Linked DNA regions of Homo sapiens. The protein of the gene in region 4 interacts with the protein of the main gene of each other region in a pairwise test. Each region holds a gene or a part of one and is shown on either strand. Other genes may lie near its edges. The genes, in order: TRIM2, MGAT3, PLAAT2 and UBAC1.

The links.
Region 1: the proteins of UBAC1 (region 4) and TRIM2 interact in binary tests that used the Homo sapiens proteins (3 or more experiments, as listed by UniProt).
Region 2: the proteins of UBAC1 (region 4) and MGAT3 interact in binary tests that used the Homo sapiens proteins (3 or more experiments, as listed by UniProt).
Region 3: the proteins of UBAC1 (region 4) and PLAAT2 interact in binary tests that used the Homo sapiens proteins (3 or more experiments, as listed by UniProt).

The regions. Positions count from the first base shown.
Region 1 is NC_000004.12:153,291,181-153,299,212, forward strand, and holds part of TRIM2 (tripartite motif-containing protein 2), read left to right. Parts: exon of another isoform or gene 1-458; intron 459-1,801; coding exon 1,802-1,953; intron 1,954-3,124; coding exon 3,125-3,305; intron 3,306-4,132; coding exon 4,133-4,856; intron 4,857-8,032. UniProt on the Homo sapiens protein: UBE2D1-dependent E3 ubiquitin-protein ligase that mediates the ubiquitination of NEFL and of phosphorylated BCL2L11. Plays a neuroprotective function. May play a role in neuronal rapid ischemic tolerance.
Region 2 is NC_000022.11:39,451,981-39,460,437, forward strand, and holds the start of MGAT3 (beta-1,4-mannosyl-glycoprotein 4-beta-N-acetylglucosaminyltransferase), read left to right. Parts: upstream 1-5,031; 5' UTR 5,032-5,577; intron 5,578-8,457. UniProt on the Homo sapiens protein: It is involved in the regulation of the biosynthesis and biological function of glycoprotein oligosaccharides.
Region 3 is NC_000011.10:63,559,589-63,568,454, reverse strand, and holds the start of PLAAT2 (phospholipase A and acyltransferase 2), read left to right. Parts: upstream 1-5,075; 5' UTR 5,076-5,130; coding exon 5,131-5,139; intron 5,140-8,261; coding exon 8,262-8,370; intron 8,371-8,866. UniProt on the Homo sapiens protein: Exhibits both phospholipase A1/2 and acyltransferase activities. Shows phospholipase A1 (PLA1) and A2 (PLA2) activity, catalyzing the calcium-independent release of fatty acids from the sn-1 or sn-2 position of glycerophospholipids.
Region 4 is NC_000009.12:135,931,871-135,937,807, reverse strand, and holds the end of UBAC1 (ubiquitin-associated domain-containing protein 1), read left to right. Parts: intron 1-4,292; coding exon 4,293-4,408; 3' UTR 4,409-4,839; downstream 4,840-5,937.

The DNA.
Region 1 (8,032 bases), on a different chromosome or scaffold from region 4:
TCACCAGAAAAGGTTTTTTCCAAAACACATGTAGTATGAGCAAGCTGAGTGCTTTATTCCTAGGAGAATCTTCTCCAGAAAGCACTATGTAACATAGTGAGTCTTAATGAGGAAGGAGGTGTCCCTTGGTTGGTCTTACACATGCCACCCGAATCATGGCTAAGAGCCTCCTCTCATTTATTCATTCAGTAGTGTTATTGAATACCTACTAAATGTATGGTATTATCTAGGCTCTGGGTGGGAGAGTTCCTGGGCTTAGGAATTTAAAATCTTTTATTTCATAAATTGGGTATAAATAAAAGTGATTTGGTGACTGCCTTCACTTTGTGAAAATCCATCAAGCTGCATTAAGATTTATGCCCTTTTCTGTATTGTGTTATATGTCAAGAAAAAGTTCCTCCTAAAAGTGCTTTGGGAATTGAAAACTGGAAGACATTATTTCCAGCTGAGAAAACAAGGTAATACCTCTGCAAGGAAGCTAATTTTCTGGCTTTATATTATATTGTTACTGAAAGTTCGTCATTGTCAGGGTCATATTTTTTTATTTTCAGGTAAGCAGATGATGTCATCATCATCATCATCATCATCCCCACAGCAGCTACTACATATTAAGAACTTATTATGTACCAAAGCCAGGTGCCATCTGAGTTCTTCGTGCATACTAACCTACTTATTCTTCATAGTAGCCCTGTGAAGTAGGTTACTGTTACTATCTCCATTTGACAGAGACAGAAGTTGTGACACAGTGAGGCTGAAAATTTGTCCAAGGTCATTCAGCTAAATAAGTGGTGAAGCCAGGAGACAAACTGCTCAGTCCAGACTTCTTATTTGGATAAGTCTCTTAGCCAAACAGTAGCAGTTCTCAAAGTGTGGTCCAGGAACCCTTGTGGGTCCCAAGACGTTTTCAAGCAGTCTTCAAGGTCAATACTATATTCATAATCATATGAAGACATTATTTGCTTTTTTCACTCTCGTTCTCTCAAGAGTGCACAGTGGAATTTTCCACAGGCTATGTGATGTATGCTATCACAATGGACTCAATGCAGAAGTGGATACAAGTCTCCAGCCATCTTCTGTTAAGCCAGACGCTGCAGATATTTACAAAAATGGAAAACAATACCATTTTTCCCACAAATTTTTTTGTTTTTCACAATATATTTATTTTCATAAATTACATTATTCACATTAACATTTAATGGGCTTATTACTGCTTTTAATAAATTAAATACTTTAAAATTTTTATCCGTTCTAATTTTTAAAAATTTGATTAAATACTAATTTTAAAATTTTTTGTAGAGACAGAGTCTCGCTATGTTTCCCAGGCTGGTCTTAACTCCTGGCCTCGAGTAATCCTCCAGCCTTGGCCTCCCAAAGTGCTGGGATTATAGGCATACGCCACTGCACCCAGCCTAGTTTCAATTTTTAATATAAGAAATATCTATAAATATAACCCACATACACGAAAGCTCTTTTGGAGTCCTCAATAATTTTTAAAGATTATAACGGGGTCCTGATATAAAAATGTTTGAGCACCACAGCCCTATACTGTACTGCCTTGGGGCAGTGGATACCCAAAAGCTGGTTTTATGGTTATAGAAGCAGCTTAGAAGTCAGCTCCATTTCTGAGACCTGTCACATAAAAATGTGTCCTTCCTTTTCTCCTGTGAAGCTGGACTTAATAATGCTGACATTCTGGGGTGGCTCTCATTTAATTATGAGAGACTGCAAGGCAAGTGCTTAGTGTAGAGTAAGCCCTCAACCCATGGCCCAGAACCAGGAACTTTTCTTGTGTCATCCACAGGTGATGGAATTTTACTGCCAGTCCTGTGAGACTGCCATGTGTCGGGAGTGCACGGAGGGGGAGCACGCAGAGCACCCCACAGTTCCACTCAAGGATGTGGTGGAACAGCACAAGGCCTCGCTCCAGGTCCAGCTGGATGCTGTCAACAAAAGGTGGGGGACCCCTCCCCAAACCCCCAACTGGCTGCCTGTACTTGAGGCCTGGCCTCATGGCCTCTTGTCTAGGTACAAGAGTAGGTTCATATTTCCCTTGAGATATCAGGCTTTGTGGGTAAATAAGTTCTTTTATCATGGATTTGTTGTCATAAACTAATGAGTGAGGAAGGTTGTCTTCTGCCTGTTGGTAGAACTCCAGCCTCCTTATGAGTGGCATTTTTGTTTTAGTACCTAAGTATGATTACATGAATTAAAGTACACTCAAATAAACTGCTCTCAGGAGAGTTCTGAAATTCATCCCTGAAACCAGGCTCTCTGAGGAGCCTTCCTTATCTGCTGTTCCTGACACACATACAGGCCATTTTGTTGGCTGTGATTGGCTCCTTTCTGTCTGAGCTCTGCAAAATGGTCTTGAGCAGTGATTGCTAATTTTCCTTGTTTTCCTGCTTCCAAGTTCCTTCTTTGGCACAGAAATGAAAGAACAGAGTAGCTGAGTGGTGCATGAAAAAGACCAAAGAGAGGAAATGAGAAGCCAGCAGAAAAGCAGACAAAATAAATCTCTCCACTGATAGCTGTAGTGAGAAAAGTGTGGTTGTTCTATAGTAATTCAAAGAACTTGGAAACTTACGAGAAGTTCTCAAGAAACTGGGTTTGGATAAATGTTTTATGTGGCTAGGGTAAAAGATACAGCTATCTAGAATAGTGGTTCTCAGCCATTCGGCAATGCCTGGAGACATTTTTGGTATCACAACTGTGTGTTTTGGCAGGGGGTTGGGGAGAGGGAGGCAGGGCGGGGAGAGCTATTGGTATCTGGTAGAGGACAGGCTGCTGTTAAACATCATACAATGCACCAGACGGCCCCTGCAACGAAGAATTAACCTGGCCAGAATGGCTTTTCAGAGAGCTTCAAGTCTATACACTTAATTAATTATTAAAATTGGACAATTGATGGTAGATTGAAATTGACAATTTTGATTGTCTCTGAAGAGACAAAATCTCTTCTCTCTAAGGCAGTAATTATGTCATATCTTATTCTGTTCTCTGGTTATTGTTTTTTTAAAGATGATGAAAGGCATAGAATTTTTTTAAACAAAATGTAGTGTTTAGATAGATTTTGGAATATTTCTGGGTTGAGGTTAAATAACGACCTTTAACAACTGTCCACCAGGCTCCCAGAAATAGATTCTGCTCTTCAGTTCATCTCTGAAATCATTCATCAGTTAACCAACCAAAAGGCCAGCATCGTGGATGACATTCATTCCACCTTTGATGAGCTCCAGAAGACTTTAAATGTGCGCAAGAGTGTGCTGCTTATGGAATTGGAGGTCAACTATGGCCTCAAACACAAAGTAAGACCAGAATCATTACAGATGTCCTGGAAGAGACATGATATCCAAGGGCACTAGCTTATTGTTTCCTAATAGCAACAAGGGGTCCTTAAGTGTCATCATTGTATAGTAAACTATAGTTTTCACTGAATGTAATATCCAGCTATTTTTTCCCCTATTTTCAGCAAAATTCGATGACTCTGTGACTTTAAGTACTAGTTTATAATTTGACAAGAGGCAAGGTTGAATATAATGTAATGCTTTTAGCATTTAGAGTTAAACTGGATTGTTTTCATTCCTCAGTTATAACATGAAATAGTTTCTTAATTGCTCTCTCACCCACACCAACCTGTTAGTCAGCTTCAAAATGAACCCTGACTGCAGCCTTTGTTTAACTCTGCATGTCTGTTCACAAAACAGGGATGAGAAACCTCTGATGTTCAGGTGTGGAGAGTTTTCATTTGTTTACTTCCTGTTCCTTTAGGTGGTGATGGACATGGGGACATGGGGAAAGATACTGAATAATGAATATTTCAGATGTCAGGCATAGCAATTAATTTGCTATGCTCTTGGTAGTGACCTTTCTGTTTTCCCCTCTCCAAAACACATGAGCCAAGAAATACATGTGTGGAAGAGAGGGCGAGGCGGAAGGGAAACCTCGAAAAGGTACTGGGAATGCAGTTTAGGACTTTGCGTTAGCACTGGGTTCCCTGGGTTGACAAACACCGCTTGCTCAGAGCCACCTGCGTGGGCAGGTGTAGAGTCTCCTTCTCGCCGGTGGAGGGCACTGCCCCGGGCTAGGCCCCGCCCTGTGGGACGAGCTCACCAGGCCTCCGGTTTTCCCGCAGGTCCTCCAGTCGCAGCTGGATACTCTGCTCCAGGGGCAGGAGAGCATTAAGAGCTGCAGCAACTTCACAGCGCAGGCCCTCAACCATGGCACGGAGACCGAGGTCCTACTGGTGAAGAAGCAGATGAGCGAGAAGCTGAACGAGCTGGCCGACCAGGACTTCCCCTTGCACCCGCGGGAGAACGACCAGCTGGATTTCATCGTGGAAACCGAGGGGCTGAAGAAGTCCATCCACAACCTCGGGACGATCTTAACCACCAACGCCGTTGCCTCAGAGACAGTGGCCACGGGCGAGGGGCTGCGGCAGACCATCATCGGGCAGCCCATGTCCGTCACCATCACCACCAAGGACAAAGACGGTGAGCTGTGCAAAACCGGCAACGCCTACCTCACCGCCGAACTGAGCACCCCCGACGGGAGCGTGGCAGACGGGGAGATCCTGGACAACAAGAACGGCACCTATGAGTTTTTGTACACTGTCCAGAAGGAAGGGGACTTTACCCTGTCTCTGAGACTCTATGACCAGCACATCCGAGGCAGCCCGTTTAAGCTGAAAGTGATCCGATCCGCTGATGTGTCTCCCACCACAGAAGGCGTGAAGAGGCGCGTTAAGTCCCCGGGGAGCGGCCACGTCAAGCAGAAAGCTGTGAAAAGACCCGCAAGCATGTACAGCACTGGAAAACGAAAAGAGAATCCCATCGAAGACGATTTGATCTTTCGAGTGGGTAAGGAGAGGGCTTCTGTGCCCGACGCCTGAGCTGGCACTGGTTAAGGGGTAACTGGGCACGTGTCATTGCAAATAGCAACACTGCAGCCCAGAACTCTACCTGCAGGTGTTAGGAGATGTACTGCTATAAAATTTGATATATTTTGTTAGTCGAGCTTATGCAGTCTCCTCCAGAGATGGTATTTCCTTCTCCTCCGCCTCTAGTCTCCTCCCTACTCCCTCCTTTCTCTTCTTCCTCTTCCTTAAGACACAAGTGCTGCATATTCATTGTAGGAAATTACAAGCTGAAAATAAGCAAAAAGAGAAATAGAAAAATCATAGCACCCGTAATCTGAAAATCTTGAAGGAAAAATTGGCAATCCTCCCCCTAACCCCCACCACCAACGCCCCTCTTCCCTGGGAGGGTCTTCTTGTGCCAGAGCTGAGGCTGTACGGTTGGCAGAGCATGTGATGCCTCCCTGTCACTGCATCGGCATTGCAGGAGGGAGGGGATGTGTGCATTGCAAGTTGCAACCACCTCCAGCTGTGTGTAGCTGGAGAGCAGCCCCAAGGAGAGGAGGAGGGGTGGAAACTTGGAGAAAGAATGGGGTTGAGGCGGGGTTGGGGTGGAAGCAAGAAGGTACCCGATGAGCCAAGAGAGTTAGGAATGCAAATAGCCCTTCCCTCCTCTGATTTATGGTCTCTCTCTTTTTAAACTTTCTATGTTCTCAGTAGAAAGCAACTAAATGTAAACAGCAAAGGGCTTGATGATTCTTAAGGGAGAAAAGTCTGCATTTTAGTTAGCTTCAAAAAGTAGCTCCAGCAGACTTCTTTTCCTCCCTCTTCCATTTAACAATGCAGTATCTCTGAAAGAGTGCTGCACTGTATATTAGCTGGCACATGTAGAAAAACAATTCTATGGTTCAGATAAATTTGGGAAACCTTAGGCTAAATGAAGGAAGTGGACTTTTTTAAATTGCAGAACTTCTTAAAACCTTTAGAATCTGCTGATGTACATTGTAGGTCTCTGAGGCAGGAGAGGGATAGATAACAGGCAGCACATCCAAACTTCCAACCATAGAACTTTTTCCCTGGAACGTCTTGGGAAATGAAGGCTCTGTGGAACGTTCTTGGGCAGAGCTGCTCAATGTTAATGCTTCAGGCTGAATCTTCGCAAAGACGGTGATATGATATGTAACTTGTCTGTTCAGAGCATGGAAGCCCTCATACATTCACGGCCAGATGTGCGATATGGGTGCAGGGGTTGTTGATTCTCCACCAGAGCAGAGTGGACGAGCTTGGGTGGATGCAGGACTGGGAGGCGCCCAGGTCTGCCACTCCGGTTCAGCCACTTACTTGAGCCTTGGGCAAATCTTTCAGCTTCCCTGTACTTCAACTTCTATGTCCATGAAATGAAAATGCAAAAATATCTGCTTATCAGAACTATTCTAAGTTCCAAGCTGAATGCCTGACATGTAGGAGGAGCTAAATGAATGAGAGCTATTGTTTTTGTACATGTAATTGTTAAGGCTTTTAGATTATCCCTACTACCTTTTCTTTTCAAAAAACCTGCTGGCTCCCCACTGATCTCTTGCATTACGAACAAATTCATTTTCCCATTTAAACCTCCATCCCCCACACCTCCCACCAAGTGACCCCAGTCTACTCCCCTAGGCCATGTGCAGTGAAAGACTCAGAACTGGAATTGGGCAGATCTGGGTTGGAATCTTGATTCTTCTCACCAGCTGGGCAACTGGCTTACTTACCCTTTTTGAACAGTGTTTTCTCCTCTGTAAAACAAAGGGAATGAAATATTACCTAAATCTTAAGGTTGCTGTTGGGGGTGAAATGAGAGAATTCTTGTAATATACGTGGCATGTGCCTGTGTACAGCAAGAGCTCAATTAATGGTAGCTAAGATTTTACTCTTGTTATTCATCATCATCATCATCATAATCATCATCACCTCTGATACCCACTTGAGGAAAGAGACATGTCTTTCAGGAGTTTCCTGTGCTCAAACTATATTGGTTTTGATTCTCCAGATCCCACCCCAGGGACAAGGGGGTATATCTTCTCCCCTCGTACCTACTGAGAAATGCAGCCATAGTGATGTATTGGCACTGCTGGAAAGGTGTTGAAATGTGTAAACATTTGTGAAGAACTTAGAACAGTGCCTGGCATGCAGCACGATGTCTGAGTTTATCAATGAAGTAAAGATGCTGTCTTAGTTTGCTAAGGCTGCCATAACAAAATTCCACAGTCTGAGTGACTTAAATGATAGACATTTATTTTCTCACAGTTCTGAAAAACTGGAACTGTTTTAGAGTTAGAAGTCCAAAATCCAGGTGCTGGGAGGGTGGGTTTCCTCTGAGGCCTCTGTCCTTGCAGATGGCCACCTTCTTGCCTCTTTGTCCTCACATAGTCATCTCTTTGTGGCTCAGCCCCTATTGTCTCTTCCTCTTCTTATAAGAACACCAATCATACTGAATTAGGGCCCCGCTTTAACAGCCTCATTTTAATTTAATCACCCCTTCAAAGACCTAATCTCCAAATATGTATATATTCATGGTGTACAACATGATGTTTTGATATATGCATACCTTATTGAATGGCTAAATCAGGCTAACATATGCATTACCTCACATATTGATCAATTTTTTTATAGAGAACACTTACAATCCACTCTTTCAGCAACTTTCAAGTGTATATAATATATTTCTTTTCTTGTTATTGAAACAGGGCCTTGCTCTGTTGGCCAGGCTGGAGTACAGTAGCGTGATCATGGCTCATTGTAGCCTCTACCTCCTGGGCTCAGGTGATCCTCCCACCTCAGCCTCCCAAGTAGCAGGGACCACAGCTGCATGTCACCAAGCCCAGCTAATTTTTGTTTTTGTTTTTTTTTAGGGGTTGGGTCTCGCCATGTTGCCCAGGCTAGTCTCAAACTCCTGGACTCAAACAATCTCCCCATCTCAGCCTCCCAAAGTGCTGGGATTACCGGCGTGAGCCACCATGCCTAGCCATAATATATTAACTATAGTCACCATGATTTACAATAGTTCTCTTGAACTTATCCCTCTTATTTAACTAAATTTTTCTGTCTTTTGATCAACATCTCTCCAGTCCTTTTACCCCCACCCTCCCCAGCCTCTGGTATCCACTATTTTACTGTCTGTTGCTATGAATTCAACATTTT
Region 2 (8,457 bases), on a different chromosome or scaffold from region 4:
CTGAGTCAGAAGAATCGCTTGAACCCGGGAGGCGGAGGTTGCAGTGAGCCAAGATCACACCATTGCACCCCAGCGTGGTGACAGAGTGAGACTCCGTCTCAAAAAAAAAAAAAAAAAAAAAAGGCAGAGAAATTGCAAGCATTTCAGAGGGCTGCCAGTGGATGGGACAAGCTCAGCTGAATGGAGTGTATGTGGGGGAGGGTAGAAAGGGGACAGATCTGACTTCACCTGGCCAGTGTTGGGGAAGGAAGTCGCCAACAGAAGAACAATGAGTTTCACAAATTTGGAAAGGAGAGCTTTATTTCTCATAAAGGGTTGCAGCCTGCAGGGCAGCCATTCTGACAGGCTGGGAAGCATAGCTTCCAGCCAGAAGCCAGGAACACATGCTTCAAGGGAGGGGCAAAGGGAACAGGAATTTATACAGAGCAGGGTGGCTGAATATACATATTTAATAAGCTATAGGGGGAGTCATGAATATTGATGTAAGGAGAAACAGGGACCTGTGCAATTAAGCTTCATGCCCCTTAGTGAGTCACACATGCAAAAAAATGGTGGCGTTAGTGTGATCGCAGGGTGTTTTTCAGCCCTCTGATGTCAAAAGGTGAAGCACAGGACCCTACTGTGTGCCAGGCCTCTGTGAATGCGGGAGGGGAAAAGAGTGACAGGGGCTATGTGGGAGGAAGGAATTGGGGGCTGTGTCCCCTTCTGGCCAGCTCTCAGGCAGGCTCCTGGCACCACAGGGCCTGAGCTGGGAGGGTAGAGGGTGGAGGGTGGGGCCTGGTGTGCCTGGCTGTGCCCGGCTGTGCCCAGGGCTGGCTGTGTGCGACTGAGCAAGTCACTTATCTCTGACGAACACCTTCACTGGGCGTCCACTTTAGACTGTCTGGACAATGGTTTCTTATCAGGAAGGGATGATGGTCAGTTATTGTGTCAAAACTGCAAAAGAGGGATAGCATCGGACAGCTGGTTGGTATCAGTGGTGAAGTCTTTCAAAAGGGCTGGTTTCTGGCTAGCCCTAACCGTCAGCAGGCTTTCTTCCCTAAGGAAGGGGTTCAGGAGGGGCTGTATCGAGGAGTGTCTGACCTCCCATTCTGTTGTAGCCAAGCACTCAGCTTTCAAGGTTTCTCTGGGGTTCCCTTGGCCAAGACGGGGGGCTGTTGGGGGGCTTGGGATTTCATTTTAATTTCTCAAAGGACCCTTTATCAAACACCTTCGGTGCTGCCCAGCACCACCTTGTCACACATCCCACCTCCCTCACCCTCCCCACACGCTGTCAGGTGGCCACCTTTATGCCCACTCTGCAGACCAATGGGCCTAGGCTTTGAGTGTGGAGCCCTGGCGCAGCTCGGAGGGCCCCGACCGGAGCCAGCTCACTCTGCCCACTGCACCGCCATGCTCCCTGACCACCTGGAGCCTTGGCAGGGCTGGGGCTTGATGGCTTGGTTCTCTCTTTCTTTCTTTCTTTCTTTTTCTTTTTCTTTTTTGATAGGGTCTCACTCTGTTGCTCAGGCTGGAGTGTAGCGGTGCGGTCCTAGCTCGCTGCAACCTCCACCTCCCGAGTTCAAGGGATTCTTGTGCCTCAGCCTTCCCAGTAGCTGGGACTACAGGCATGTGCTACCACGGCCGGCTAATTTTTGTATTTTTAGTAGAGATGGGGTTTCACCATGTTGGCCAAGCTGGTCTCAAACTCCTGGCCTCAAGTAATCCGCCTACCTTGGCCTCTCAAAGTGCTGGGATTACAGGCGTGAGCCATTGCGCCTGGCCTGTGGCTTGGTTTTCATGGCATGGGTGAGGAGCCTCCCCACCTGGAGACCCAGGGCCAGGAGTGAGATGCCCCAGGGAGGTGGAATGCGGCTCCCACAGGCCAGGCAGCAGCTGCTGAAAGGGTAACAGACCTAGCAATTGTTCCCAGAGCCAAAAAGGCCTGGGTGAAAGGGGACAGCAGGGCTGTAAGGAGACACCGCCTGAGATTGGCTAATCTTGTATCTGGGCTTTTCCCACCTCCAGCTCCCACAGCCTCCTTGTCAGGCAGCTCAGCCCCTAGAGGAGCAGTGGGGCAAGAGGGCCACCAACCACCCTCCCCCATATCACCATGGAGCTTGGAGCCCCAGCCTCCCCCACGTCATCGTGGGGCCTGGAGGACGGCTGGGAGAGGATGGAGAGAACCAGATTCCATTGATGTCAATGCGATGTCAGGGCAGTGATTCGTCCCATTCTGCAGATGAAGATACTGAGGCTTAGGGATTGAAATGACTGGAACACTTGGCGAGCTGGCATAGAACCCAGGTCTTAAGCTCCCTGGGATTCAGCTTCTCCACCTGCTGAGCACCTCCGTGCCTACTGTGTGCCAGGCCTCTGTGAATGTGGGAGGGGAAAAGAGTGACAGGGGCCATGTGGGAGGAAGGAATTGGGGGATGTTTACCCTTCTGGCCAGCTCTCTGGGAGGGAGGCTTCTGGCACCACAGGGCCTGAGCTGGGAGGGTGGAGGGTGGGGCCTGGTGTGCCCAGCTGTGGCTGTGTGACCGAGCAAGTTACTTATCTCTGACAGGCTGGGCGTGGGGAAGATGTACTTGCCACACAGCGCCCAACACACTGAGTGCCGCATTGAGGACATGGAGGCGGACTTTGGTATGAACCCAACAAGGCTGACTCCACTTCGGCCTCCCAAGAAGCTTGGGAATCTGGAAAGGTCAGGAGAACAAAGACCCAAGCTGGGGGAAGATGGAGAGCAAGCAAGTCCCCTGACCCTGGCCAGCTCTGGGCAGGGCAGCTTCCCTGGGGAGTGGGGCGTGTCTTTACTTCTCACTGGGCCTCAAGGGCAGGGGCTGGGGCTTGGGCAGGTCCTCCTCCCCTTTGCCAGGAGCAATGGAAATGGAGGAATGTGATTATTTTGTGCCTGCCTTCGTGCTTGGGGGCCAATGTCAAGGTTTTCTTGATGCTCAGAACGAGTTCAATGGAGAATCCAGACTTGAAACAGCACTTCTTTCATGGGCTGAGGGACGCCCAGAGTTGCTGCTGAAGGCTCAGGGAGGGAGAGAAGGTTCTGGGGAAGGAAAGTGTCTGTGAGGCGGTCCCTTCCAGAGGGGAATGAGTCCCAGGCAGGGAGAGCTGTGGCATGGGGAATTGGGGGAGGGGGACACATTTGAGCAGAAATTGAAGGTTCTTTGGGGGCCGGAGAAGAAGGGGCAGAGAGGGTTGAACAGCCAGGCTGGGGAGAGGAGGAGGGCAACATTTTTGCAGGGCAGAATAGACTGGATTTTGGGGGAGTGACAATTACCTTAAGCACATGTCATGGAGATGATTTATTTTTTTTTTGAGATGGAGTCTTGCTCTGTTGCCCAGGCTGGAGTGTAGTGGCATGATCTCGGCTCACTGCAACCTCCGCCTCCTGGGTTCAAGCAATTCTCCTGCCTCAGCCTCCCGAGTAGCTGGGATTACAGGCGTGTGCCACCACACCCGGCTAATTTTTGTATTTTTAGTAGAGATGGGGTTTCATCATGTTGTCAGGCTGGTCTTGAACTCCTGACCTTCTGATCCACCTGCCTCAACCTCCCAAAGTGCTGGGATTACAGGCATGAGCCACCATGCCCGGCCCATGGAGATGTTATAATGGAATGTGCTTAGAGTGATAGGAACTAGGAATGGATCTTACACTTTCAAATGGTTGGGAAAACATCAAAAAATGTTTCTGGACACGTGAAAATGACACGAAATTCAAATTTTTGTGTCCATAAAGTTTTATTGGAACACCGCCAGGCTCATTCTTTTACGTATTGTCTATGGTTGATTTTATGCTACGATGGCAGAGTTGAGTAGTTGGGACAGAGACCATATGGCTGGCAAAGCCTAAAAGATTTACAATCAATCTCTTAAAGCAAATGGTTTGCCCACCCTTGCTTAGAGAGAGCCTCCAGGAAGAAAAGAGCAGTGAGGGTGACGTTGAAGAAGGGGGCAAGACTAGGTCACCAGGGGCTCCCTGTGCCCCGCCCAGGCACTGAACTTAAGCTGAGGGCAAGTGGGAGCCATTGAAGGTGCAGGCAGGAGAGTGACCTGCTCAAGTGAATGTTGGAGTAGGATCACTCTGCCTCCTCAGCAAGGATGGATGAAGCTGGGCACGGAGGCACCTGGAGCAGGTAGACCAGCCCTAGGCAGCCCGGATGGTTCAGCAAAGGCCTCTGGGACTATTCTGGAGCACATTCGCTGGGATATAGAATAGGTAGCGCATCCCTGCACCTTCGACGATGGCGGCGCAGAGATGTCTGCTGCGTACCCACAATGCCTTGTGCCTCGCACCGCGGGAGGAAGTGGCTGCTCTGTAGGCCCCAGAACGGAACCACTTGAAAGGCGGGAAACACGTGGGGGACGCCTCTGAGCCCTGAGAGGAATGGCCTAGAGCAAGGCCACGAGGAGCCAGGGCACGACACGGTGGGCCCTCGGAGAACCGCTGGTGGGCAAGTGGCAGGAGAGTAGGCTCAAGAGGGTTGGCAGGGCCGACCGGGCCTAGGGTGGCCGGGTGAGGGGGGCGGGGGAGGGGAGGCCCCCCCAGTTACCCCAGGAGTGCGCAGGTGGCTTCGGGCATGTGAGGGACGGAGGGGGTCGGACGGAAGGACACAGGCCGGTGTACAGCGGTCACCCACGCCCCAAGCAGACACACAGACTCTGCAGACACCGTAACAGGCCCGGCACCGTGCACACATCACAGGCCCAGGCCTCTGCACATGGTCACAGATGCCTATGCGAAATCCCGGCCCAGGTTCACGCGGGCACAGGCGCATCCACGCACACACCGCAACACGGATCTGCACGTCCATGCACACACAGGCACAGACTCGGGCACACGGAGTCACACCGACCCGGGCACGCTGCGGAACGCACCCGTCCACGCATACACAGAACGGGACTTGCTGCCCCGCACGCACACCAGGCCCGCACTCCGAACTACCCGCATTCCCCGCACACGCCCCCGCGCAGGCCGCCCCGGGCCGTGGGCCGGCGCACGCACGGTCACAGGAGGGGCGCGCGCACACTCGCACTCACACACACTCGCTCGCACACGCACACACTCGATCCAGCACGCGCGGGCGGCGCGGGGCGGCGGCGGCCGGAGTCTGCGGTGCGAGGCGCCCCCGGCCCGGCGCGGCGGCGGAGCCCGGCTGGCGGGGGAGGGGAGGGGGTTGCGGAGGGGGCGGGGTGGGGGCCGGAGCCGCTTGAGCCGGCGGGAGCGGGCACCCCTGCGCGCCGCGCTCGGCCTCGCCTCCGCGCCCCCCGCGCGCCCGCCGCGGTCCCTCCCCCGCGCCCGTCCGCTCGCCGGGCCCCCGCCGCCGCCCCGGGGTGCAGCCGAGCGGCCGCGCCGGGTCCCCGGGACGGGGTGGAAGTGGGGGTGGGGGGAGGGGATCGGGGCCGGGCCGGGGCCGCGCTGCCTGCGATGCCGGGCGCCCGCCGCAGCCGCTGCCGCCGGAGCCCGGGATGGGGCGAGAGGCTGCGGCGGACGCCAGCATCTCCCCGCCGGGGACCCCGGGGGCCGCGGAGCCGCCGCCGCCGCTGCTGCCGCCGTTGCTGAGACCCAGCGGGCGATGGGTGAGTTGACCCCGGCGTCCTGGGGGGCGCCGCGGCCCCTCTATCCCCGCGCTGCCCGCCCTCCCGCGCTGCGCTTGGCGCCCCCCGCCCGGCTCCGCGGCCCACTCCCCGAGCGTGACCTTAGGGGGCGGGCGCGGGCGCACTGGGGCTGGGGGCCCGGAGGCCGCGGTGGGGGCGGGATGCCGGGGAAGCCGCTCGGCGCGGGCCCCCTCCCCCTACCCGCCGCTCCTCCGAGCTCCCCGGTCCCCGGAGGGCAGAGCCTCAGCGCCCGACCCCCTCCCACGGCCGGGCGGGGGACGTCCCCGAGGCGCGGGGCTCGAGCCGTGCTTTGTGCGCGGCACCCCCCAGCCTCCGGCGCGGCTCCCCCACAACCTCCGGCGCGGCGCGGGGCTGGGGTGGGAGGCCTCCGCGCCCGCCTTCCCCACCCCCGACCCCAGACTGCGGCGGCGGCAGCCGAGGCCCAAGCGCAGTCGGGGGCTGGGCGGGTGCGGGGGCTGCGGCCGTAGCTACCCCTGGGGACCAGGCAGAGGCAAATGTGGAGAGGGCCCCCGGCCATTTACCGGGGTGGGGGCCCCCGGCTCCTTGCATTGCTCTGCCCAGGGCGGGGGAGGGAACCTGGCTGAGGGAGGGCGCTATAAATATCTGCAAATAGTGAGTTCTGGAACCGGGAGTGGGGAGGGGAGTGCGCCTGGGTGTGTGTATGGTGGGGTTCCTGAGCTGGGGTGCAGCAGGAAGGGATGCCGCGCGGCCAGACCTAGTGGTCTGAGGTCGGATGACCCCCAGCCCCGGAAGATGCCCCTGAAGGCCCCTGATGGGGTGTGGGCAGACACACTACCCCAGTGGGATTCCTCCCTGGTTCCCCACTTCATTCCTGGGACACACCAGTCCAGATTCGCCTTGATGGGGGAGTTGTGAGCACTGGCGTGTCGTTTGGGGAGGGGGAGCAGTTATGAAAGATCCAGACATGGAGCCCAGCAGAAGGATGGAGGGGAGAGCCCCCACCCCCAGGAGCTGCAGCTCTGAGGGGGTTTTCAGTCTAAGGAGTGCTAAGGGGAGCCGCTCTGGGTCCTAGGAAGGTTTGAAAGAGGGGTCCCAGCCCAGGAGGAAGAGAGAGGTTACTGGAAGAGATGACGACAGGAAGCTGCCAGAGATCTCTGGGTAGAGAAAGGTGGGAAGGGCGTTGTGGGCCAAGGGAATGGCATGAGCAAAGGCTCAGAGGTGTGAGTGTCTGGCGTGTGTTGAGAGGTGGCAGTGGGAACAGTCAGGCACTGTGGGTGCCCCCTGGAAGAAGTGAGATGAAAACGGGGCAGAGGCTGGGCAGGGAGGCCAGGTGGAGGTGAGGTGGGAGGGCACAGCAGGGAGCTGGCACTTGGTCCTGAGGACGGCAGGGAGCCAAGACCTGGCTGGGGGGATGCCGCTGGCTCAGACCCATTCTAAGGGTCTGCCTGGTGCCCTTGGTGTGGTCAGGGCTACTTGAGGCACACTGGTGATTCCTTTTTCTTTTCTTTTCTTTTCTTTTTTTTTTTTTTTTTTTGAGATGGAGCCTCACTCTGTCGCCCAGGCTGGAGTGCAGTGGTGCCATCCTGGCTCACTGCAACCTCTACCTCCTGGGTTCAAGCAATTGTCCCACCTCGGCCTCCCGAGTAGCTGGGACCACAGGTGCCCGACACCACACCCGGCTAATTTTTGTATTTTTAGTAGAGATGGGGTTTCACCAGGTTGGCCAGGCTGGTCTCGAACTCCTGACCTCAAGTGATCCACCCACCTTGGCCTCCTAAAGTGCTGGGATTACAGGCGTGAGCCACCTCGCCCAACCCTGATGATTTCTTTTTCTGTAGTAACTGGACCACCTCAGGAAGTCAGCTTTCTGAGCCTCGGTTTCCACATCTGTGAAATGGGGAGGTTTTGTTTTTGTTTTTGTTTTGAGACAGGGTCTCACTCTGTGATCCAAGCTGGAGTGCAGTGGTGTGATCATAGGTCACAGCAGCCCCAACCTCCTGGGCTCAAGGGATCCTTCTGCCCCAACCTCCTGGGTAGCTAGGACTACAGGCGTGAGCCAACACACCCTGCTAATTTTTTAAAAAGTTTTTAATAGAGATGAGGTTTTGCTATGTTGGCCAGGCTGGTCTTGAACTCCTGGGCTCAAGTGATCCTCCTGCCTCTATGTCCCAAAGTGCTCGGATTCCAGGTGTGATCAAATGGGGGAGAATTTTGAATGGAATGAGTTGCAGAGAGGGTTGAATGAGAGGATGCACACAGGGTGCCTGGCACCTGAGCAGCACTCAAGAGATCGCTGGCTGCGGTATTATTACCTGGAAAACGAGGATGCCGATGCCAGCTGGCGGGCCAGGCCAGCTTCACTGGGCAGCGGCCATGAGAATCACGAGAGGGCTGGGCTGGACGTGAACGGCAGAGAGCTGAGGGTGGGGGAACTGCGTGGTCCTCATGCAATTCTGGGAAGACTACATAAGCAGTGAGGAGTGGCCAGAGGCAGGGTGGTCTGCAAAGACAGCCCCTCTTGGCCTCATGGGCACCCACCCGCCCAGCCAAGTCATTCAGGGTATCCTGCTGTGCTCCCCAAGAGCCAGAGCCCCTTTGCTCCCCAGAGTGCAGTGATGCAGCCCCTCATCTTAGCCATCTCCAAGCCCTTCATGTGGGGACCAGGTCTTGGAACACAGTGTCCTCAGGTAGGGGTAATAATTTACTGTGCTGGACAGAGAGGACATAGGCCTTGCCCTGAGGAGATTAGAATCCATTGGGGAGCAGATACCCCTGGCACCGATGCTCCACCTAGCCCTGTGCTGGCTGCTTGGGGGCAAGGAAAGAGTCACTAAAAGTAGGGATTCCAGATCTAGTGGCCCGGTTCAAATCCCGGCCCTG
Region 3 (8,866 bases), on a different chromosome or scaffold from region 4:
CCTGCCTCGGCCTCCCAAAGTGCTGGGATTACAGGCGTGAGCCACCGCACCCGGCCAATCTGGTGGTTTTATAAGAATCTGGCATTTCCCCTGCTTGCACTCACTCCATCCTGCTGCCCTGTGAAGAAGGTGCCTGCTTCTCCTTTGCCTTCTGTCATGACTGTAAGTTTCCTGAGGCCCCCCAGCAATGTGGAAGTGTGGGTCAATTAAACCTCTTTCCTTTATAAATTACCCAGTCTTGGGTATTTCTTCATAGCAGTGTGAGAATGGACTATATACAACCTCCAGTGATTGTTGACAGGAGTCAGGATAAGTAAACTGTGGCACATTCCCATTTGCCACATGGGAGTACCATGCAAATGAATGAATAGCTATGGCCAATCAACATGGGTATGAAACCTAATATTGAACCAAAAATATTGTTATGGAATGCTTGATGTTTGATTCTACTTTTACAAACTTTAAAAATTATAAACTAAATGTATATTGTTAAGGATTACATTTATATATTATTAAGGGATGTGTTTATAAAAAAATTTAAAAATCAATAGGACAATAGAGACAAAATTCAGGAGAGTGGCTACAACTGCATTAGGAGGAAGAGGAACACAGGGTTAATTTTTTTGGTAATAGCTTCACTGAGGTATAATTTACATACTGTTGACGGTGATTGTGAGACCTCTGTTCTTGTCTTCTTGGTTAAAATAATTTTAACAAGAGACACAACCATAGAGGAACAACAGAAAGCAATGTATTGCAAAAGAGAAAGAACACTCTGAAAGCTGAGTGTAAAAAGAAACAGCTGAAAGTAATTTAGTGCAAAGATAAAACTCTGAAAGATACACTCTGAAAGGTACACTCTGAAAGATAAGTCAGAGTGGGCTGATCAAGAGTGAGTCAGCAAAGACTGGCTCTGAGGGAACTCCCTTTATGAGAGTCTTATGTGATTATTCATAGTGGGTGGGAAGAGGTGTGTTCCTAGTAATCATGTTCTGGGTGGTCCTCTGGGTGCACATGAGCAGTTGCTGTACATGCTTGTTCATACATTGCATGTCTCATTGCCGTCTTAAATCTCTACCCAGGGGTGTGTTTTTTACTATTATAATGAGCAAAGGGTCATTCTGAGGACAAGCAAAGTGAAAATGCACATGCTCTCTACAGGGGAAAGTCCCCAGTGAAGGTAGTTCTGCTTGGATGAGCTTGATTACAATGTGAGTGCTGAGGTTTGTTGTGTTGTTGGTGCGGTTGCTATGTCCCAATGAACATGGTTACAGGGCTCATTGTGCTGTTGACAGTGTGGTTGCCATGTCCCAAGGACGTGGTCATCTCCTTGACTATCTATCCTGCCTCAGTACCATATAGTTCACTTACTAAAGTATATAATTCGATGCCCTTTAGCATGTTCACAGTCATGAAACTATTACCACAATCAACTTTAAAACCTTCTCATCACCTAAAAAGAAACACAACCTGAATCCCCTAGCCCTTCCATCCCTAAATAATCATTACAATCATGAATTTGCTTTATGTCTCTGTGTGTTTTCCCATTCTTGACAGTTCAAATAAATGGAATCATATACTATATGGCTTTTGTGACCAGCTTCTTTCACTTATCATGTTTTCAAGCTTCCTCTATATTTTAGCATGTATCAGTACTTCCTTTTTATGGCTGAATAATATCACATCATACGAATATACCACATTTCGTCATTTATTCGTCAGTTGATGAACACTTGGGTGTCACCTTTTGGCAATTATGAATAATGCTGAGTATTAGTCAGGGTTCTTCAGAGAAACAGAACCAATGGGAGGTTATCTATCCATCAAGATTTCTTTTTTTTTTTTTTTTGAGATGGAGTCTCGCTCTGTCACCTCTGCTGGAGTGCAGTGGCGCCATCTTGGCTCACTTCAAGCCCCGCCTCCCGGGTTCATGCAGTTCTCCTGCCTCAGCTTCCGGAGTAGGTGGGACTACAGGTGCCCACCACCACGCCCAGCTAATTGTTTTTTTTTGTATTTTTTAGTAGAGACGGGGTTTCACCGAGTTAGCCAGGATGGTCTCAATCTCCTGACCTCGTGATCCGCCCGCCTCGGCCTCCCAAAGTGCTGGGATTACAGGCGTGAGCCACCATGCCCGGCCCCATCAAGATTTCTTACAAAAAATTAGCTGCTGCAGCAATCACAGAGGCTGAGAAGTCCCACCATCTGCTGTTTGCAGGCTAGAGACCCTGGAGACTCAGGAAAGGCAGTGGTATCATTCCGTCTGCGTCAAAAGACCTGGGAATCCAGGGAGCCGATAGAGTAAATCCCAGTATGAGGGCAGAAGATGAGGTGAGCTATCTCAACACAAGTAGTGAGGCAGACGAAAAGGGGACGAATTTCTCATTCCTCTAGCTTTGTTCTAATCAAGCCCTCAACAGATTGATGCTCCCCACTCACATAAGGGAGGGTCATCTGCTTCACCCATTCCACCAATTCAAATGCTGATCTCATCTGGAAGCACCTCAACAGACATGCCCAGACATCACACAGCATCTGGGCACCCCATGGCCCTGTCGGATTGACACAACAAATTAACCACCACGGCTGCTATGAACATCTGTGGACAGGTTTTTGTGGGACACAGGGCTTATTTAAGAAATTGGTTATTTTCTATTTCTTCAACTAGGTTTATTGGTACCTGTTTTGTTATTATTTCTAGTGTTTTATACTTATGTTGCAATTATTCTTCTATATGGATATAAGATTTAATAAAATCCTTTATTTATTTATTTATTTATTTCTGAGACATAGTCTCACTCTGTAACCCAGGCTGGAGGGCAGTGGCGTGATCTTGGCTCACTGCAACCTCTGCATCCCAGGTTCAATAGATTCTCCTGCCTCAGCTTCCCGAGCAGCTGGACTACAGGCGTGCGCCACCAAGCCCAGCTAATTTTTGTATTTTTAGTAGAGACGGGGTTTTGCCATGTTGGCTAGGCTGGTCTCGAACTTCTGACCCAAGTGATTCACCCACCTTGGCCTCCAAAAGTGCTGGGATTACAGGCATCAGCCACTGTGCCCGGCCAAAGCCCATTAAAATTATATGTAGCCCAAGATATTCCTGGCATGTACATAGAAAGATAACATTGCCTCTAGAAAGGGGAACTGGGTTGCTGGAGGCTGGAGGCTGGAGGTGGGGAGAATGGAGGCTTATCTTTCCTTTTATAGCCTTTTATACAATTAAACAAACATAGAGAGCGTGCATGTGAACAAAAATGTAAGTATTCCAGGCTGTAGGCCTAGAGCTTACCAGCAGGCTGGGTGTGGCCTGCCCTACCCTGTTCTCTGTCAGTAGAACTTTGTCACCTTTCCTGCTCAGCATGAACAGTAGGGAGACAGCAGAATTCTCATTCCACTGGCCCTTGATTTGCAGACTCTCCTTTCCTATAGCTCCTGGACATAATTTCCTGACACTCTGAACAGCTTGGATTCGGTGAAAAGCCACAAGCCCCAGCATGAGTACAGTGATGTTCCTCCCCAACTCCGCCCTGCATGGTCTGGTTGGTCATTGTGCCAACCCACCTGAGATCCTTTCAGCAGACAGCACGTGGAAGTCCTCCTGCCCCAGGAAACAGGGGTGTGATGTGGTTGCAAGGGGAGGGCAGGCATAGGAAGAACTGAGATTGCTGGACTGGAGGTCAGCCCCTAAAAAGATGATCAGCAAGCCTGAGTGGGACCGGCCCAGAGGTCTCTGGACAATGGGGCAGGAGATAATTAGCCAAGCCAACCCTACTGTCTCCCTCCAGAAGGAATACTTTGAAGATTGTCCCACTGCAACTCAGAGGAGAATGGAGTGGAGGTGCTGAGAGAGGCCGTCTCCATGGGAGCAAGACCACATGACCACGTGAGCTGAGGGAGTAGCTGGTCATGCAGAACTGCTGTGGCTCCCAAAGAGTTTTCCAGTTCTGGCTCCAGTCCATCTGCATCCCCACACTAAAGCTCTTTGTTTGTTTGTTTGTTTATAGCCTGAAGAGGGTAAGTTATTGGTCCTCGCCCCCATGCCCCACAGTGAGGATGCTCAGCTCCCCCCAGCCCCACCCACCCCTTCCTGTCCAGTTTGCTCAGGACCGGACAACTATATGTAGATGACAGAAGAGATACTTATTTGGAGCTTGGGTGAGATAAGCATGCAGGTGCCTCAAAGAAGCAACCTCTACACACCCAGTACTGGGTTTTGGTTTCCATTTGGTGTGGAATGAGTGTTTCTGAACTGTGGGTGAGAGGCAGAAAGGGGAGTGGTTTCTATACTGCTGTCCAAGCAGGCTCACTCTGTTTCCAGGGTAGAGGAATGTGCCTCCAATAATACGATTTTTCTAGGGCCATGGGGTTTGAGGTTGGTGGAAATGTTTGCCTGTCCCGGCAACCATCATTCCCAATTTGGAGGCATGAATCTCAGTCTCTCTGGGGCTCCTCTCTCCTTTTTGAAATTTTCCCCCATGGTCTCTGTCTCTATATCCTCCCTTGCCCCCACAACCACTGGATCTTGCTTGTTCCACCTGAAACTTGGTGATTGTCAGCTGTGCCCCTGACCACACTGCCACTAAGTCCTTCTCAATCTATATCCTGAGCTCTGATTCCTCTTCTGTCTGGCTGATTTTCATGCCGCCTTGCCTACTTGATATGTGCTCTGCCCCTGTTTGAAGACAGGGAAAATTTTACATGAACCTTGATCTATGTTCTGTTTTTTTTTTTTTTTTTTTTTTGACTGAGTCTCGCCCTGCCGCCCAGGCTAGAGTGCAGTGGCACGACCTCTGCTCGCTGCAAGGTCTGCCTACTGGGTTGACGCCATTTCCTGCCTCGGCCTCTGGAGTAGCTGGGACTACAGGTGCCCACCACCATGCCCAGCTAATTTTTTCTATTTTTTAGGAGAGACGGGGTTTCACCGTGTTAGTCAGGATGGTCTCGATCTCCTGACCTTGTGATCCTCCCGCCTCAGCCTCTCAAAGTGCTGGGATTACAGGTGTGAGCCACCGCACCCAGCCTATGTTCTGAAATAGTTGTATATGGGCTGGGTCACAGGGAAAGTGAAACTCAGAGCTAATTTAAGGCTGGACACAGAGTCAGCAACACACAAGACATCATCTTGAAGGAAGGATGGCTTTGGTAAGTCCCCAGAAACGGTTTTAAAGCTTTGATTTGAGGAACAACCACCCTATTAGTGATGATTATGTGTATTCTTGTTGGTCTACAGCTCTGGCATGGAGGGCACATGGGCACATGCTGAGTTCTGGGGGTCTGGCTCTCTCAGACACTGTGGGAAGGAACCACGGTGCTGGGTTATGACCCTGGAGGCTCCCCAGCCTCAGCTGCCGCATGGGGTCTGGTTCTACTGTGGCCAAAGTTTGCGTTTATGCTTTTCCAAGCCCTCCTCTGGCCAAACTACCAGTGGCTCTGCTAAGCCTCCTGAAGGCAGGAATGGTGGGCTCAGGGAGAGCAGCCCTTGGTTTACCCCACAGGCCGCCTCCTCTGTCACATCATCCTCAGTGGGAGGGATTAGCTGGGGAGGGAGGGTCCAGGGAAAGGGCTCCAGCTGTGTGGGTGGCAATGGGGGCTGTCAGAAAGGGCTCTGTCTCCCTCGCCTCCAGGCAGGGCCAGTCCCTCTACTTTCCCTCCTTCCCTCCAATTCCTTCTTAGTTTCCTTCTTCCTTTAGACCCAATAGCAGCCACATTTCCCAAGTGCTCAGGGGTCCAGACACCATGCTAAACACTTCTTTTATTTAATCCACACCAGGTAGTTAATAAGCAATCCTATGAAGTAGGCATAATTACTGCCAACTTCATGGATAGGAGGAATGATATACTGGTAAGTATAGAGAGGGGGCTGCCCAAAAGTCAGAGAGGGAATTCGAACTTAGGAGGCTCTGACTCTAAAGCTTCGACTTAAAAAAGAAAGAATGTATTTAATTCCAGGAGAAATACGTGAACACATTCACTTTGTCTGAAAAACCGAAACTCTAGCCTGGGCAACATAGTGAGATCCCATCCCTACAAAAAATATTAAAATTAGCCAAGGATAATGGTATGTGCTTATAGTCCTAGCTTCTTGGGAGGCTGAGGTGGGAGGATCACTTGAGCTGGGGAGGCTGAGGCTTCCTGCAGTGAGCTGTGATAGTGCCACTGCACTCCAGCCTGGGTGACAAAATGAGATCATGTCTCAAAAAAAGCCAAAAGCCAAAAACCAAAACTATTAGCATAAAAACTAATGTCCCCTTTGACCATCCTTCCCATCTGTACAGCCTTTCCCCTCTGTACAACCTGGTGCGTATTCTTCCAAATATTTTTCTGTTTTTGCATACATATATGGCTACCTTACAAGTATTGGTTTGTAGCTTTGGGGTTTGTTGTAGTTTTAAATTGCATTCCGTGAGGACAATTCAGTTAGGAAATGCTTGAATCTTTTCCTTTATTTACCAGCTTTTGGAATAATAGGGTGATTCTTTTCCATCCTCCAAAGATGCCTAGTGTTTTTAAAAAATATCCTTATGAACACGTGGGTTTTAACATATTTGATGTGTTTCAGTTTGTGTACAGTTATTTTTATTATTTTTTTTTGATGCTCAAATTGTCCCTTATTTGGTCAAGTTGACTCTTGACCCCTCTAGTCAAAGGCTTTACTTTTTTTTAAATTTCGAGGTTCTGGGGGGGAACATGTGGTATTTGGTTACATAAATTAGTTTTTAGTGGTGATGTCTGAGATTTTGGTGTACCTATCATCTCAGCAGTGTACTCGGTACCCAATGCGTAGTCTTTTTTTTTTTTTTTTTTTTTTTTTTTGTGATGGAGTCTCACTCTATCGCCCAGGCTGGAGTGCAGTGGCACGATCTCTGCTCACTGCAACCCCTGCCTCCCGGGTTCAAGCAATTCTCATGCCTCAGCCTCCCAAGTGGGTGGGATTACAGGCACCTGCCACTATACCCAGCTAATTTTAGTATTTTTAGTAGAGATGGGGGTTTCACCATGTTGGCCAGGCTGGTCTCAAACTTCTGACCTCAGGCAATCCACCCATCTCGGCCTCCTGAAATGCTGGGATTATAGGCGTGAGCCACCACACCCAGCCCCAGTGTGTAGTCGTTTATTCCTCACCCACTCCCACCCTTTTCCCTCAGTCTTCAGAGTCCGTTGTATGATTCTTATGCCTTTGCGTCCTCATAGCTTAGCTCCCACTTACGAGTGAGAACATAGGATGTTTGATTTTCCATTACTGAGTTATTTCACTTAGAATAATGATCTCCAATTCCATCCAAATTACTTCAAATGAAAGGCTTTACTTTTAACTATAGCTCCCCACCAGACTTTGAGTTGGCTGGCACTCTCACCACCCTCGGCAGCAGTTCAACTCCTTTGTGGCTTGGCTCAGCTGAGATAGGGGGAGGAGGGGTGCTGGCTGGCACCAGAGCATACCGGAAACAGAATTTATGTGGCAAGGGCTGTCTCCCATTCTGGGTGTGGCCAGGGCAACATTCCTCGCACCCATGCACCCTCCAGAGGGGCACTGCCCTACCACCAACTCCAAACACACCCTGCCATCCCTTGCTTTAATTTTAGCCTGAGCTCAGACTTCAGCTGCCCTGGGCTTGCCTAGGACATTCTGGGATGGTTAAAGGCATTAATGTTGGAAACATTCAGCCCTACCCTTCATTCCTGCTCTTCTACTTATTAGGCAAGTTACCTAACGTTCCTGAGACTCCATGTGCTCATTGTCAAGTGGGGGTAATGATAGTTTTCACCCAAAGGAGTGGTGTGTAATGTGGGTCAAGTGTCCGCCTGCCTCTGACATGTTGGGCGTTGCAAGTCAGACCTCTAGAACTTGTAGGAATCACTTGGGCCCAGGCTCATGGCAGGTGGCCCTTAAAGAGGCATTTTAGGCTTCCTTCGGAATCATGCAGTCACTAGCTGACAAAAACATACTCTGTGCATAAAATGCACTCACACTCAGCCTGGGCACATCACTCCATCACACTCCTGTGCTGCACATGCATGAAAATCTCCCTCAAAGATACTCTCTTCATCTCCTCCTTGTCCCCTGAAGAGCAACTTTTCAGTCCTGCAGCCCCAGTAAATGAAGGTGCTTCCTACATATGTGAGGAGTGCTCCCTCCTTCCTGTTTCCTGCAGGTGATGAGCACAGGGAATCTGCAGGCTGAGCTGGGGCTCCTTGCAGGTCAGGCCCTAGAATGTTTCCTGCAGATGGCTCACCTCTGCCTGTTTCTGGTTTTTCTGTTGCAGGCCAGACCAAGACCGAGACTTGGAGACCTGATTGAGATTTCTCGCTTTGGCTATGCACACTGGGCCATCTACGTGGGAGATGGCTATGTGGTCCATCTGGCTCCGGCAAGTAAGGATGGGTTCTCTTTTTAAGCACAAGGGTTAAGATCAAGAATGTGAAGAGATGCACAGTTACGTGCTTGTCCTCACTTCAGGGTCTAGCAGAGTAGGCACTCAATACATAATGCTGAATGAATTGTGCTTTTTCCTGCTAGATGTAGCAACTGCTATTCTTCTTTTGCAGTAAATTGGTGGAGAGACTATTGACCTTTATTCCATTATAGAGTGGGGTTCAGTCTGAACCAACTCACTGTACTTGGTGAGCATCCCTCCGTGGGATCTCCTATGTATTTGTTGTTATGGAGGTACAAGCAAGAGTAAGAAGCAGTTGCTTCCTTCAGATAGCGTACAACTGAGCACATAGTATAACGGAAGGAGCATGTGGGCCTCCCAACTCAACAGAACCAGTTTGGAATTGTGGCTCCTCTGCTTACAGACTGTGTGCCTTGAGCATGCGGCTTCACATCACTAAGTTCAGCTTCCCAGGAGTCTGGGGTCCCCTTTAG
Region 4 (5,937 bases):
GTGTATATGATGATGTAACTTTAAAGAAGAATAAAACTAATAGCCATGTATCTACTATTCAGCTTTGGGCCTGGGGTGCCCCTCCCCTATGCACCTCATCCCTCCCTCCGGTGTGGCCGTCGCCGTGGCCGCGGCTTACCTCTCTGCTTCCCGGTAGAGTTTTGCCGTATTTGTGTCTCCTTAAACAATCTCTCATTTGCTGCTGCCTTTGTGTAAGTAGAATCATGTTTTAAGCAGGCCTCTGTGACTGACTGCGTTCTTTGTGGGGGTTGTGGAGTATTTTCTTGATGGAAGGCACTGGGAACCCAGGGCTCGTTGGGTTGTCTACATGTGGTGCCACTCCTGATTTTTTTTTTTTTTTTTTTTTGAGACAGAGTCTCGCCTTGTCACCCAGGCTGGAGTGCAATGGCATGATCTCGGCCCACTGCAACCTCCGCCTCCCAGGTTCAAGCAATTCTCCTGCCTCAGCCTCCTGAGTACCTGGGATTACAGGCGTGCACTACCACGCCTGGCTAATTTTTCGTATTTTAGTAGAGACGGCTTTCACCATGTTTGCCAGGCTGGTCTCGAACTCCTGACCTCGTGATCCACCTGCCTCAGCCTCCCTAAGTGCTGGGATTACAGACCTGTTGGTCCCCAGGAGCTGAGTTCCTGGATGTTGGGAGGGCCTTTGCCACCCGAGCAGGCTGGAAGTGTCTCTGGAGCTGCGATGGCCGTGCCCTGATCTTGAAGGCTGGCCTTCTTTCAGAAGCGTATTGGCCGCCTGTAGAACCTTGGCTGTGAGAGACCTTCCGCTCAGCGTTTGGCCTGCTTTTCTCTTGGATTGTTTTCTTATTCATTCAGAAAGGTCCTCACCTCCTGGATGCTGACCCTTTTCCCATTATTTGTGTTGCAGATGCCGTTGTTCAGTTTCTGGTTTATTTCCTCACACTGATGGGCAGAATCCCGTGTTTTGATGTCCTTCAGTGTGTCTGTATTTTTTTTAAGATGTGAACCTTTAAAGAAAACCCTCCATGGCTGGGCGTGGTGGCTCACGCCTGTAATCCCAGCACTTTGGGAGGCTGAGGCAGGTGGATCACGAGGTCAGGAGTTCAAGACCAGCCTGGCCAAGATGGTGAAACGCTGTCTTTACTAAAAATACAAAAAATTAGTTGGGCATGGTGGTATGCACCTGTAATCCCAGCTACTCTGGAGCTGAGGCAGAGAATTGCTTAAACCTGGGGGGCGGAGGTTGCAGTGAGCCGAGATCGTGCCACTGCACTCTAGCCTGGGCGTCAGAGCAAGACTCCACCTCAAAAAAAAAAAAAAGAAAAAGGAAAACCCTCCTATCCGAAAGTCAGAAACACGTTTTCCTTTTATTTTTTTTTCCAAAAATGTTAAAAGTTTCTCTTAATTTAAGTCCATAATCTACCTAGAAGTATGTGTGTGGTGTGAGGTAGGGATCTTCTTTGTACCCAAATTCTAAAACTTGAGAATGGTCTTTTGTGAGTTTATTTTTATTCTTAGTGATTCCTTTCACACTGAAAGCATATTCCTCCTAGCTCTCCAGCTGTTTGTATACCTTAGGATGTTAGTGTGTGCTGCCTTGGGGTCTGTCCAATAACTTTTTCTTTTTTTTTTCCTAATAGAAATAGGCTCTTTCTCTGTCACCCAGGCTAGAGTGCAGTGATGGCGCCACTGTCCATGCAAGATCTGCCCCCAGCACACACACTTGCCCACCTCCATATTATAGACAAGACCTTCATTGTTTTAACTTGTATTCCTCTTTTTTTTTTTTTTTTTGAGATGGAATCTCGCTCTGTCACCCAGGCTGGAGTGCAGTGGCACGATCTCAGCTCACTGCAAGCTCCGCCTACCGGGTTCACGCCATTCTCCTGCCTCAGCCTCCTGAGTAGCTGGGACTACAGGTGCCCGCCACCGTGCCCGGCTAATTTTTTGTATTTTTAGTAGAGACAGGGTTTCACCGTGTTAGCCAGGATGGTCTTGATCTCCTGACCTCGTGATCCGCCCGTCTCGGCCTCCCAAAGTGCTGGGATTACAGGCTTGAGCTACTGCGCCTGGCCACTTGCATTCCTTTTGGTTATTAGCAATGTTGAATACTTTTCTGTTGGCCATTGCATTTCTTCTTTTACATACTGTCTATGCGTGTCATCTATTTGTTTTCCTTCTTTTTATGGAGACAGGGTCTTGATCTGTCACCCAGGCTGGAGTGCAGTGGTACAATCACAGCTTACTGCAGCCTTGACCTCCTGGGCTCAAGTCATCCTCATGGGTAGTTATGACTACAGGCATGCACGACCATGCCCAGCTATTTTTTTTGTTGTTGTTGAGATGGGGTCTCGTTTTTTTGCTCAGGCTAGTCTTGAACTCCTGGCTTCAAGCGCTCCCCCCACCTCTGCCTTCTAGAGTGCTGGGATTGTAGGCGAGAGCCATTGTGCCTGGCACATGTGTTTTTCAATTGCAATATTAATCCTAGAGCTTCCTTAATAGCTTCTTGGATATTAGGCACATCTTCCTTTGTTGAATGTTGTAAACTGTTTTTGCTCTCTAATTTTGTGTGGCATTTTCTGACATACAGAAGTTAGGATATACAGAAGACAGTCCTTCCTCAGGTTGGGCATGGTGGCTCATGCCTGTAATTGTAGCACTTTGGGAGGTTGAGGCAAGAGGATCACTTGAGCTCAGGAGTTCGAGACCAGCCTGGGTAACATAGCAGGACCTCCTCTCTACTAAAAAAGCAAACAAACAAAAAAACAAAATCAGCCAGGAGTGGTGGCACACGTACCTGTAGTCCCTGCTACTCAGGGGACTGAGGTGGGAGGATCATTGAGTCTGGGAGTTCAAGGCTGCAGTGAGCCATGATCACTCCACTGCACTCCAGCCTGGGCAACAAAGCAAGTCGCTGTCTCAAAAAAAAATTAAATTCAAAAAGGAAAGTCCTTCCTCAGATAAATAATCATCTGTGTGGTTTTTCATATTTAACTCTTTATCTTTTTGTTCAACTCTTTCATCCTTCCAGAATTTATTTTGCTGTTTATTGAGAGGAAATGGGAAATTAAGTTCCCCGCCCTGTGTGTGAAACAGCTGTTTCGCACCTTATAGTTTGTTCTTTCTGAGTCTTTTTCTGGGATTTTTATTTTTATTTTTTGAGACGGAGTCTCACTCTGCTGCCCAGGCTGGAGTGCAGTGGCGCAATCTCGGCTCACTGCCAGCTCCGCCTCCCTGGTTCATGCTATTCTCCTGCCTCAGCCTTCCGAGTAGCTGGGATTATAGGCGCCTGCCACCACGCCCAGCTAATTTTTTATATTTTTAGTAGAGACAGGGTTTTACCGTATTAGCCAGGATGGTCTCGATCTCCTGACCTCATGATCCGCCTGCTTCGGCCTCCCAAAGTGTTGGAATTACAGGCATGAGCCACCGTGCCTGGCTTTTTCTGAGATTTTAAAGTGGTTTTTGGAGACTTTTAATCAGAACACCAGAGGATTGTTTTAAGGCCTGGGGATTGTCCAATCATGAACAGAGCCAAGTTGGGTTCACTCTGAGCTCTGTGCTCAGCCATGGGCTACTGGGCCGTGAATGGCTGTGAATTCTGTAGTGAGCACTGTCCCTGGAGCCTGTAGACCTGGGGCCACTTATGCTGAAGTGCGTCCATGTGTGTCAGGTCAGCATGGAGCCATCGATCCTGGCAGAGGGGCTGGCAGAACGCGTGCTCCTTCACAGTGGGTGGAACAGAGAGCTTTTTGCTAAAAGCCACCTGTTTTGGGGAAACAGTTTTGTAAAGCTGTTAAAACCCAAGTTTTCATTTTGAAGAAGTGCTGTGTTGCATTTTTAATGTGCTGGTTTTTTGAAGAAGGAATTTTCTGAAGGCTGAGCATTACGTTTTTCCAGTTTGTTGTTAACTTTGCAACAGTGTCTGTGTGTGTCCTTTCTGCATCTGCTGACCTTCTCGGGGTGGGATTGGAAGTGGAGTTGTTGGGGAAGATGATTTTTGAGCCCTGGCGGCTGCCAGACAGCTGCCGAGAGTGGGGGTGCCATGAGCACGCACAGGCACACTGCCCACCTGCCAGAATTGAGTGCATGACTCTCTGTGATCAGATCTGATTTGATGGGTGCATCCGATGGAGTTGGGTGGGTTTCAGCCTGAGAGTGCACACTTAGCAGTGAGCTCTGTGTGGCCTTTGTATTGGAGACGCACCCTCTTCATTAGGAAGCTGCCGAAGAGGAAAGTCACGCCTGTGCCTGTGGGCTGAGTGGGGGCGTGGGCACTCAGGCTGGCTCTGTTTTCCCTGCAGCATTTGAAGACATGCTGGAGAACCCACTGAACAGCACCCAGTGGATGAATGATCCAGAAACGGGGCCTGTCATGCTGCAGATCTCTAGAATCTTCCAGACACTAAATCGCACGTAGGTGGCGTTGTTCCACTCGGCTATCAGGCCACAGCAGCCCCCTGGTGCGGCCCGAGACCGGGCAGAGTGGACCTCACCTGGAAACTCACCTTCAGCGCCTCAGCCCTGGACTGTTAGAGGTGCTGCAGCTGCTCCTGCTCTCTGATCTTATTGCTTATAAACTTTGGTGACGGTAGTGTGTAAGGCCGTATTTTTAGCATCTGACAGGTGTTTACAAAAAAGTGGTTGTCGCACTGGGAAGTGGAGTGATGGCCTCGTCTCCAGTGCTCCTCTGGGCTCTTGAGTTGCTGCTTGAATTGCCGTGTAGACATTTGCTTGGAGAGTCCACTTGTTATTTGACGGAGGTAGGTTTCAACCCAGAGTTAATGTCAAGCATGCTAATTTAACTAGTCACTCACAGATGACTTTTCTTTAATAAAGTCCCTTTTCCTATTTCCTGTCTTCGTCTTTTCTTGGTGCCGCACAAGAAACCCGTGCGTCCCCGAGAGGCCACATCCCCGCGGCTCCGTGCCGGCTGCTCTGACCCGGGGCGGGCACCGGGGCCACCGCAGCATGTGGGAGGCCTTGTGGCCATGTTTGGTTGGCAAAGCCTCGTGTTGTATTGGGTTTAAGGGACTGGAGCTGAGCCCGTATTCCTGGGACACAGGTCCTGAGCCCAAGCACGGCTGCCTCCGCCTACCTCTGGCCTCTTCCTCCTTTTTTTTCATTTTAAAAAACATGACCGGTGTCTTAAAATGAGAAAATGAATTTATTTTGTTTTTTGTGAACTCTGCTCATTATTGTTGCTGGAAGCAGTCAGTTCCGAGCTGTTTGTTTTGAACTTCTCTTCTGAACCAGCCCCCTCCCCTTCTGAACTCTGCTTGCATTGTAGCTGAGTAAGAATGTTTTCGGAAAATGTTTCTCTCCACACATCTAGGTCTTTTCATTGTTTTTGAGATTTAGATTTAAAACTAAAGTTAATTTAAACTCTTTGGGCAGAAATATTAAAAATGCTTTTCAAAAGTAATGAATCTCGGCCGGGCGCGGTGGCTCACACCTGTAATCCCAGCACTTTGGGGGACCGAGGCAGGCGGATCACGAGGTCAGGAGATCAAGATCATCCTGGCTAACACGGTGAAACCCCGTCTCTACTAAAAATACAAAAAATTAGCCGGGTGTGGTGGCGGGTGCCTGTAGTCCCAGCTACTTGGGAGACTGAGGCAGGAGAACGGTGTGAATTCGGGAGGCGGAGCTTGCAGTGAGCCAAGATCGCGCCACTGCACTCCAGCCTGGGCGACAGAGCAAGACTCCGTCTCAAAAAAAAAAAAAAAAGTAGCGAATCTCACTTCTTTTTGAGACGGAGTCTCAAAAAAAAAAAAGATGCCTGTCTACTACCCTGCTGCCAGGCCACAGGCCCTCGGCCCGCCCCACGTCAGCAGGGTCTAGCCAGCCACAGTGCCCTCCTTGCCCGCCATCCTCTTTTGGCAAACTTGTGAGTCGGAAGAGAATGTTCTCCTCAGCGAGTTTAAGAGTCAAAGTTGGGAAATTCCT